2 linked regions of the Homo sapiens genome follow. The protein of the gene in region 1 purifies or fractionates together with the protein of each later gene. This does not show direct contact. Each region holds a gene or a part of one and is shown on either strand. Other genes may lie near its edges.

Region 1 (3,500 bases):
GGCCTGCCCCAGGCTGAGTGAGGCAGAATCCTCACGGCTGGCATTGGGCATGGGGTTTTTGAAGCTCTGCAGAGGACTGCACTGCACAGCTGCGTTGAGAGCCTCCCTCCAAGGGGCACTGAGCACCGTGCTGCCGAGACACAGAAATCAGGCCTGTGCGGGGACCCCAGCCCCAGAGCCTTTCTCCCGCGGGGCCTGCCAGGCCTGGACACGGCCCAGGGACTGGGGTCAGGAAATAGCTCTCTGCCACCTGGCATGGCTACGGTGCTAAAATGGGCAGTGGGTAAGTCTGACCCTAGGCCCCCTCTGCTCCTGGTCCTGCAGGAGGAGGACGCCTTTGTCCGCTGTGTCTCCGTCCTAGGGAACCTGGCTGACCAGCTCTACTACCCCTGTGAGCACGTGGCCTGGGCGGCTGATGCCCGGGTCCTCCACGTGGACTCTTCTCGGTGGTGGACGCTGAGTACAACCCTGTGGGCCCTCTCTCTGCTCCTGGGGGTTGCCAGGTAAGTGGCATGGGCCAGAAGGGAGCACCCAAGGTCCCTGGGCGGTGCCTCCTTAGCAAAGTGGCAGCGGCCCCAGCAACAGCACAGGCTTCAGACTGCGGTGGGTCTTTGCCTCTTAGAGTTTTCCTTGGAGGTTTTGTTGTTTCTTCCTTTTGTGGGTGTATTTGTTTAGAATAACTGTCGGAACAAATTAGCACAACTCTGTAGTGCTGGGCAACAGAAACTTCTTATCTTAGGATTCTGAAGGCTGGAAGTCAGAACACTCCCTGGGCTAGTGTCAGCAGGCGCTGATGCCTTCTGGAGGTCCCAGGGGGAGGTCCGTTTCCTTGGATTTTCCAGCTTCTGGAGGCCACCCACATTCCTTGGCTCATGGCCCCTTCCTTCATCTTCCAAGCATGACCTCTGCTTTCAGCGTCACACCTCCTTCCCTGACCCTCATCCTCCTTCCTCCCTCCTATAAGGACCCCTATGATGACATGGGGACCACCTGGATGATCCAGGGTAATACCCCATCTCAAGATCCTTAGCTTAGGTTGGGCGTGGTGGCTCATGCCTGTAATCCCAGCACTTTGGGAGGCCAAGGCGGGTGGATCACTTGAGCCCAGGAGTTCTAGACCAGCCTGGCCAACATGGTGAAACCCTGTCTCTACTAAAAATACAAAAAATTAGCTGGGCTTGGTGGTGCACACTTGTAATCCCAGCTACTTGGGAGGCTGAGGCAGGAGGATTGCTTGAATTTGGGGAGGTGGAGGTTGCAGTGAGCCGAGATCACACCCCTGCACTCCAGCCTGGCGACAGAGCAAGATTCCGTGTCAAAAAAAGAAAAAATCCTTAGCTTAATCCCATCGGCAAAATATCCTTTGCCTTGGAGGTGAACATGTTGACAGGTTCAGGACATGGACATTTTAGAAGGGGTCATGACTCTGCTGACCACACTTAGAAAGAAGAAGTAACTCCAGGGCCTGTGAGAAGCAGCCAGCGGAGTGGCCTTTACCCGGGTCCCTGAGTCTTGCTGGCGTTGCTGTCAGCCGACACCCCAGAGAAAACAGTCAGCAGTTTCCTGACTAGTTCTGTGCCTCCAAAAAACCATATAGTTTCTAGAACTTTCTAGTAATGGTTTCCTCCCAAACATTTTCCTCTTTGCAAATGCGCTGAGTCAGAATCCCCTGCCCCTGAAAACACCAGCAGGAGCTGGGCCCCCTGGTCTCCATGTTTCAGTGGCTGTGAAGGGCTCTTAGATCGCTGGGGTGAGGTGCGGCTGCCCCCAGCCTCAGGCAGGCTGTGTCCTTTTTCTGGGGGAAGCTTTGCTTGTCCCTGGTCGAGGCTCTGACTCTCAGTAGTTCTTGTTTTCCCCCCGGCACAGATGTCCTAATTACATGCTTACCGTAGACAATCTGGAAAATAGATAAACCTCAGAGTAGAAGATTCGAATTACCCACAATCCAACCCAGACTCCCACTGTTCAAGCTTGGGTGGTTCTTTTCCAGCCTTTGACCTAATACCCTGCCTGTGCATTTTGGCTGTCTCAAAAGGGTCATGTTTCATGGCCATGGCCCCTGGAGGCAGCGGTGTCTGTGCTGCTGGCCTTCCCTGTGTGCTGGGAGACCTGGGGGAGGGTGCCTGGGCCCAGCCTGGATGTTCCTGGGGCTCCGGTCAGAGGGGGGCCTTGGCTCACAGCCTCTCTTCCGCCACCTTCCTCTGGGTGCCTCGTGACCTCTGGTTTGTATTTTAGGGGCAGCCTTGGTTCCTTTCTTTTTTGCTTAAATAAACTTTTTTTTTTTTTTTGAGACAGGCTGAAAAGCAGTGGCTCAATCTTGACCCACTGCAACCTCCGCCCCTTGGGCTCAAACAATACTCCCACCTCAGCCTTCTGAGTGGCTGGGACCACAGGCTGTGCCACCATATCTGGCTAATTTTTGTAATTTTTTTTCTGTAGAGACACGGTTTTGCCATGTTGCCCAGACTGGTCTCCAACTCCTGGGCTCAGGTGATCCACTTGCCTTGGCCTCCCTAAGTGCTGGAATTATAGGCGTGAGCCACCACTCCCGGCCCAGACTTTATTTTTTTAGAGCAGTTTTAGGCTCATGGCAAAATTGAGCATAACGTTCAGAGAGCTCCCATATACCCCCACACACAGCCTCCCCGACTACTGGCAGCATCCACATGGTGCATTTGTTACAACTGATGCCCCTCCATGGATCCATCATCACCCCAAGTGAGTAGCTCACGTTAGGGTTCACGCTAGGTTTTGGGCATCCTATGGGTTTGGACACTGACACGTGTCCCCCCTTGCAGAATCAAATGGAATTGTTTCACGGCCATCGAAGTCCTGTGTGCCCCGCCTGCTGCGGCATTCTTGTTTCGGGCATGTGGTTTTTCATCATTTCTCTGGATTTGCAGTGAGCAGGGGGAGTGGGTGGAGAGCATTCCATGTGTGCTCATCATGACCAGACATCTGCCCTAAGGCCCAGGGCTGCCGGAGCATCAGCCAGGAGGTTGCTAAATGGAGATGCCTGGGTCCGGCGCCCAGGGCTTCTGATTCTTTTCTTGAGACACAGTCTTCCTCTGTCGCCCAGGCTGGAGTGCAGTGGTGCGATCTTGGCTTACTGCAACCTCCACCTCCCGGGGTCAAGTGATTCTCCTGCCTCAGCCTCCCGAGTACCTGGGATTACAGGCGCCCACCACCACCCCCAGCTAATTTTTGTATTTTTAGTAGAGACAGGGGTTCACCATGTTGGCCAGGCTAGTCTTGAACTCCTGACCTCAGGTGATCCACCGGCCTTGGCCTCCCAAAGTCCCGGGATTACAGGTGTGAGCCATCGCGCTTGGCCCAGAGCTTCTGATTCTGTGGGTCTGGGGAGCCCAGGAATCAGTGTTTTTCCCTAGCCCCCCAGGAGGCTCCCACCTGCTGTGCCACTGGCGCTATCCTGCATCCTGCACCCTGGGTACCCAGTGGCCAGAGGAGTTGTGACCAGGCCCTGCCCATTCTGTCACAGT
Region 2 (3,360 bases), on another chromosome or scaffold:
AATCATGAGTGTGGACTGTTACATTTGATTATTTACCAGCTACACTTCTTTAGAAGGAAGGTACTATGATAACATGAACTCCAGATGCAATACTCTCTTGGAGAGTCTGATGCCTTGCATTTTATTTATTTTCCAGACAAAAGACTGTCTTTTTAAAAAACACTATTATCATTTTGCCATTTCTCTGGTCCAAACCCCTTTTGGCTACCTATTGTCAAGAAGATAAAGTAGAAATGGTAGAATTTAATGGATAGAACAATTAATAATATTGTCACAGAGCTCCTAGTTGAATTAAATCAACCATTGCAATGGCACGTCCTTATGTGAGCACGTAATTCAATTAATCAGGGATGCATCAATCAATAGGTACTTACTGAACACCTTCTGAGAAAGAGTTATAGTACTAAATGTCACGGAGGATACAAAAGAAGTACTTTTCCTTGAAGGATCATACCTTAGACTCAGGAGGTGCTCAGAAGTAGCTACTCTCAGAAAACTTATAATCTCAGAAGGGGCTGGGCGCGGTGGCTTACGCCTGTAATCCCAGCACTTTGGGAGGCCAAGGTGCACGGATCACCTGAGGTTAGGAGTTTGAGACCAGCCTGGCCAACGTGGTGAAACCCCGTCTCTACTAAAAAAAATAAAAAATAAAAACAAACATTAGCCAGGCATATTGGCGCATGCCTGTAGTCCCAGCTACTAGGGAGACTGAAGTGGGAGAATTGCTTGAACCTGGGAAGCGGAGGTTGCAGTGAGCCAAGATCATGCCACTGCACTCCAGCCTGGGCAACAGAGTGAGACTCCATCTCAAAAAAAAAAAAAAAAAAAAAAAAGAATGTTTTGTATTATGTTATCAAAAATAACATAAAATAGTAAAATAGTATATGTAATGACTATTTTAGTATATAGATTCTGGGTTCCAGTTCTGGCCCTTGCACTAACTGGCTGAATGACCCTGGATAAGCCCCTTCTGGACTTACAGACTAGTGACCTCTAAAGGACCTTTCAGCTCCAACATTCTAAATAATCTAAATAGAATTTCTAATCTTGGCCTTCAGTGCCATCCAGAAAAGCTCGCCCTACCCTTCCCATCCCTCTGCTTGACAATTTAAATCTGTCAAACTAGTTTTGTAGTTTGACAATGATCCTCCCATACAATGGTTTACTCAGTTCTGAGCCTTTATTAGAGAAAACTGCCCTTCGAAACTCTCTTCTTCCTTCTCTCTAGCCTCACCTCAAGTTCCACCTCCTCTAAAACACCTTTCTTTTCCTCTACCTCAGCCAACAAGTTTGGCACTAAATCTTATATATCATTATTTAAAGCACCTTACTTCTCCCATAAGGCTCAGGAATGTACCTATATAACATAGGTGCTCAAAACCAACTGATCAATATGTGATGCTCTACATTCCATTCTAATGCCTCTGCTAACCTACTATAGCAACATCTGGTTTTCATCAAACAACAAAGACTCAGAAAGGCAATTGCTATGAAAAGTACTGGATTTCCCAGTATGACATATTATTAAAGTAAATTTAATAAACACAAAATATTGATTTCACTTTTTACCTTTGGCATGAAACCTACCTCAAACATGGTCTACAAAAATGTATCCACCTATATATCCTCTAGCACTCCTCAATAAAGGAAAAAGGCAGGTGGTCTAGGATATAACTATTCCACTCTTGTTTAGAATAAAGGGGCTCACAGGAGCAGAAGCTCATGTCAGAGACTGCTAAAACATACTATGATTCTAAGAACTAAAGGTGAACTAACACGTTGTCTGTCTCACTGGTTATGATTCAGCAGAAAGATAAGGTGTAGCACCAGATGTGAACATAAGAGGGTGTTTATGAATGGTCTGCAGCAACACATTCAAACCTGTTGTGCCATGAGGACAGCCTTACTGGTCAATTTCACCAATAAACTTGATTGACTAGAAATTAATGACCTAGAAATTACTCCGTGAATTACAGGGTCTGAGGCTGAGGATTCTAAACCAGGAGTCACTGTCCCTCAAGAAACAGGGTACTTACATTTACGACCAGTGCTCACACTGGACTCCAGTTTCTTGAGCTTCATTACCACCTTCTCTTTGCCAGCTTTGGGCTCTAACAAATATCTAAGCAACATGCATGTGTACTGAGTGGCTCTGAAATGGAAAAAAAAAAATTGAGAAGAATGATTTACAAACCAAATAAAACTTAATTCAGGAAGTAAGGGAAAGAGAAACACATGCCTCCAGACAACATTTCCAAGACCATTTCTCATGTAGCAACTCTTACAAAAGCAAAATTCTGCAACAGTCATTCTACAGGAGAGCCAAAGGGTAGAACATGTCATGGAAATTTAACACAAAGGTAATGAAAACAAATTCTGCAATAATGCAGCCAATGTGCCTCCAAAAGGCCTTTTGCTGGCACAGAGAAATGGATATAGTCAAAGTGAGAAACTGTACAAAATCTCCCTCATGTTAAGTCTACAAAGATCCATATTCCTTCTCTTCCCCAGTGTAGATTTCTTTCTTTGTTTTTTTTTTGTTTGTTTTTGATCGAGTCTCGCTCTTTCGCCAGGCTGGAGTGCTGTGGTGTGATCTTGGCTCCACTGCAACCTCTGCCTCCCTGGTTCAAGCGATTCTCCTGTCTCAGCCTCCCGAGTAGCTGGGATTACAGGTGTGTGCCACCACGCCCAGCTAATTTTTGTATTTTTAATAGACACGGGGTTGTGCCATTTTGGTCATGGCTGGTCTCGATCTCCTGACCTCGTGATCTGCCCTACTCAACCTCCCAAAGTGCTGGGATTGCAGGCATAAGCTACTGTGCCTGGCCTGATTTTCAGATTTCTAAAATGAACTTTTCTACCATGTACTTAACCTACCATCTATGTGACAGGACACAAACTCAAACCAGAACCAAATGAAAAGTCCACAGTTTAAAGATTGTTTAATTTTTTATAAACGAAAGGACCAAATACACATCAGTACATAAATTAGTATAAATATGTTTTCATAGTTGTCTTTCAAAACTTATTCGTATTTTACATAAAATACAGGCAGAATCCTGCTTAATAATACTATATATTTAATAAAGTGATTATTGTCATGCTTACAAATAACAATGACTTACTAATATAAATGTAGGAGAAATTTTACATCACATAGTCACACATCCAAATCCATTTGGCAATCTACTAATAAAGTAGGTGCCTGGTTCCTACTGTCTTGTAAGTGCATTTGAATCCCTTTATGCTATAAATATTATTCTCAATAAAAATGCGGTACATTTTCATTTTCTAAAATAGTGAACTTGTTACTAGGAATGAAATAAAAAGAGAAGACTGGAATCATAAACAATCGCTTTC

What was found.
Region 2: the proteins of PEX11G (region 1) and PEX11A purify together in Homo sapiens (affinity purification with western blotting; one study listed by BioGRID and IntAct). This does not show direct contact.

Annotation. Positions count from the first base shown.
Region 1 is NC_000019.10:7,479,036-7,482,535, reverse strand, and holds part of PEX11G (peroxisomal membrane protein 11C), read left to right. Parts: intron 1-324; coding exon 325-503; intron 504-2,546; exon of another isoform or gene 2,547-2,640; coding exon of another isoform or gene 2,641-2,718; exon of another isoform or gene 2,719-2,798; coding exon of another isoform or gene 2,799-2,967; exon of another isoform or gene 2,968-3,500. UniProt on the Homo sapiens protein: Promotes membrane protrusion and elongation on the peroxisomal surface.
Region 2 is NC_000015.10:89,684,395-89,687,754, forward strand, and holds part of PEX11A (peroxisomal membrane protein 11A), read right to left. Parts: intron 2,153-3,360; coding exon 2,037-2,152; intron 1-2,036. UniProt on the Homo sapiens protein: May be involved in peroxisomal proliferation and may regulate peroxisomes division. May mediate binding of coatomer proteins to the peroxisomal membrane. Promotes membrane protrusion and elongation on the peroxisomal surface.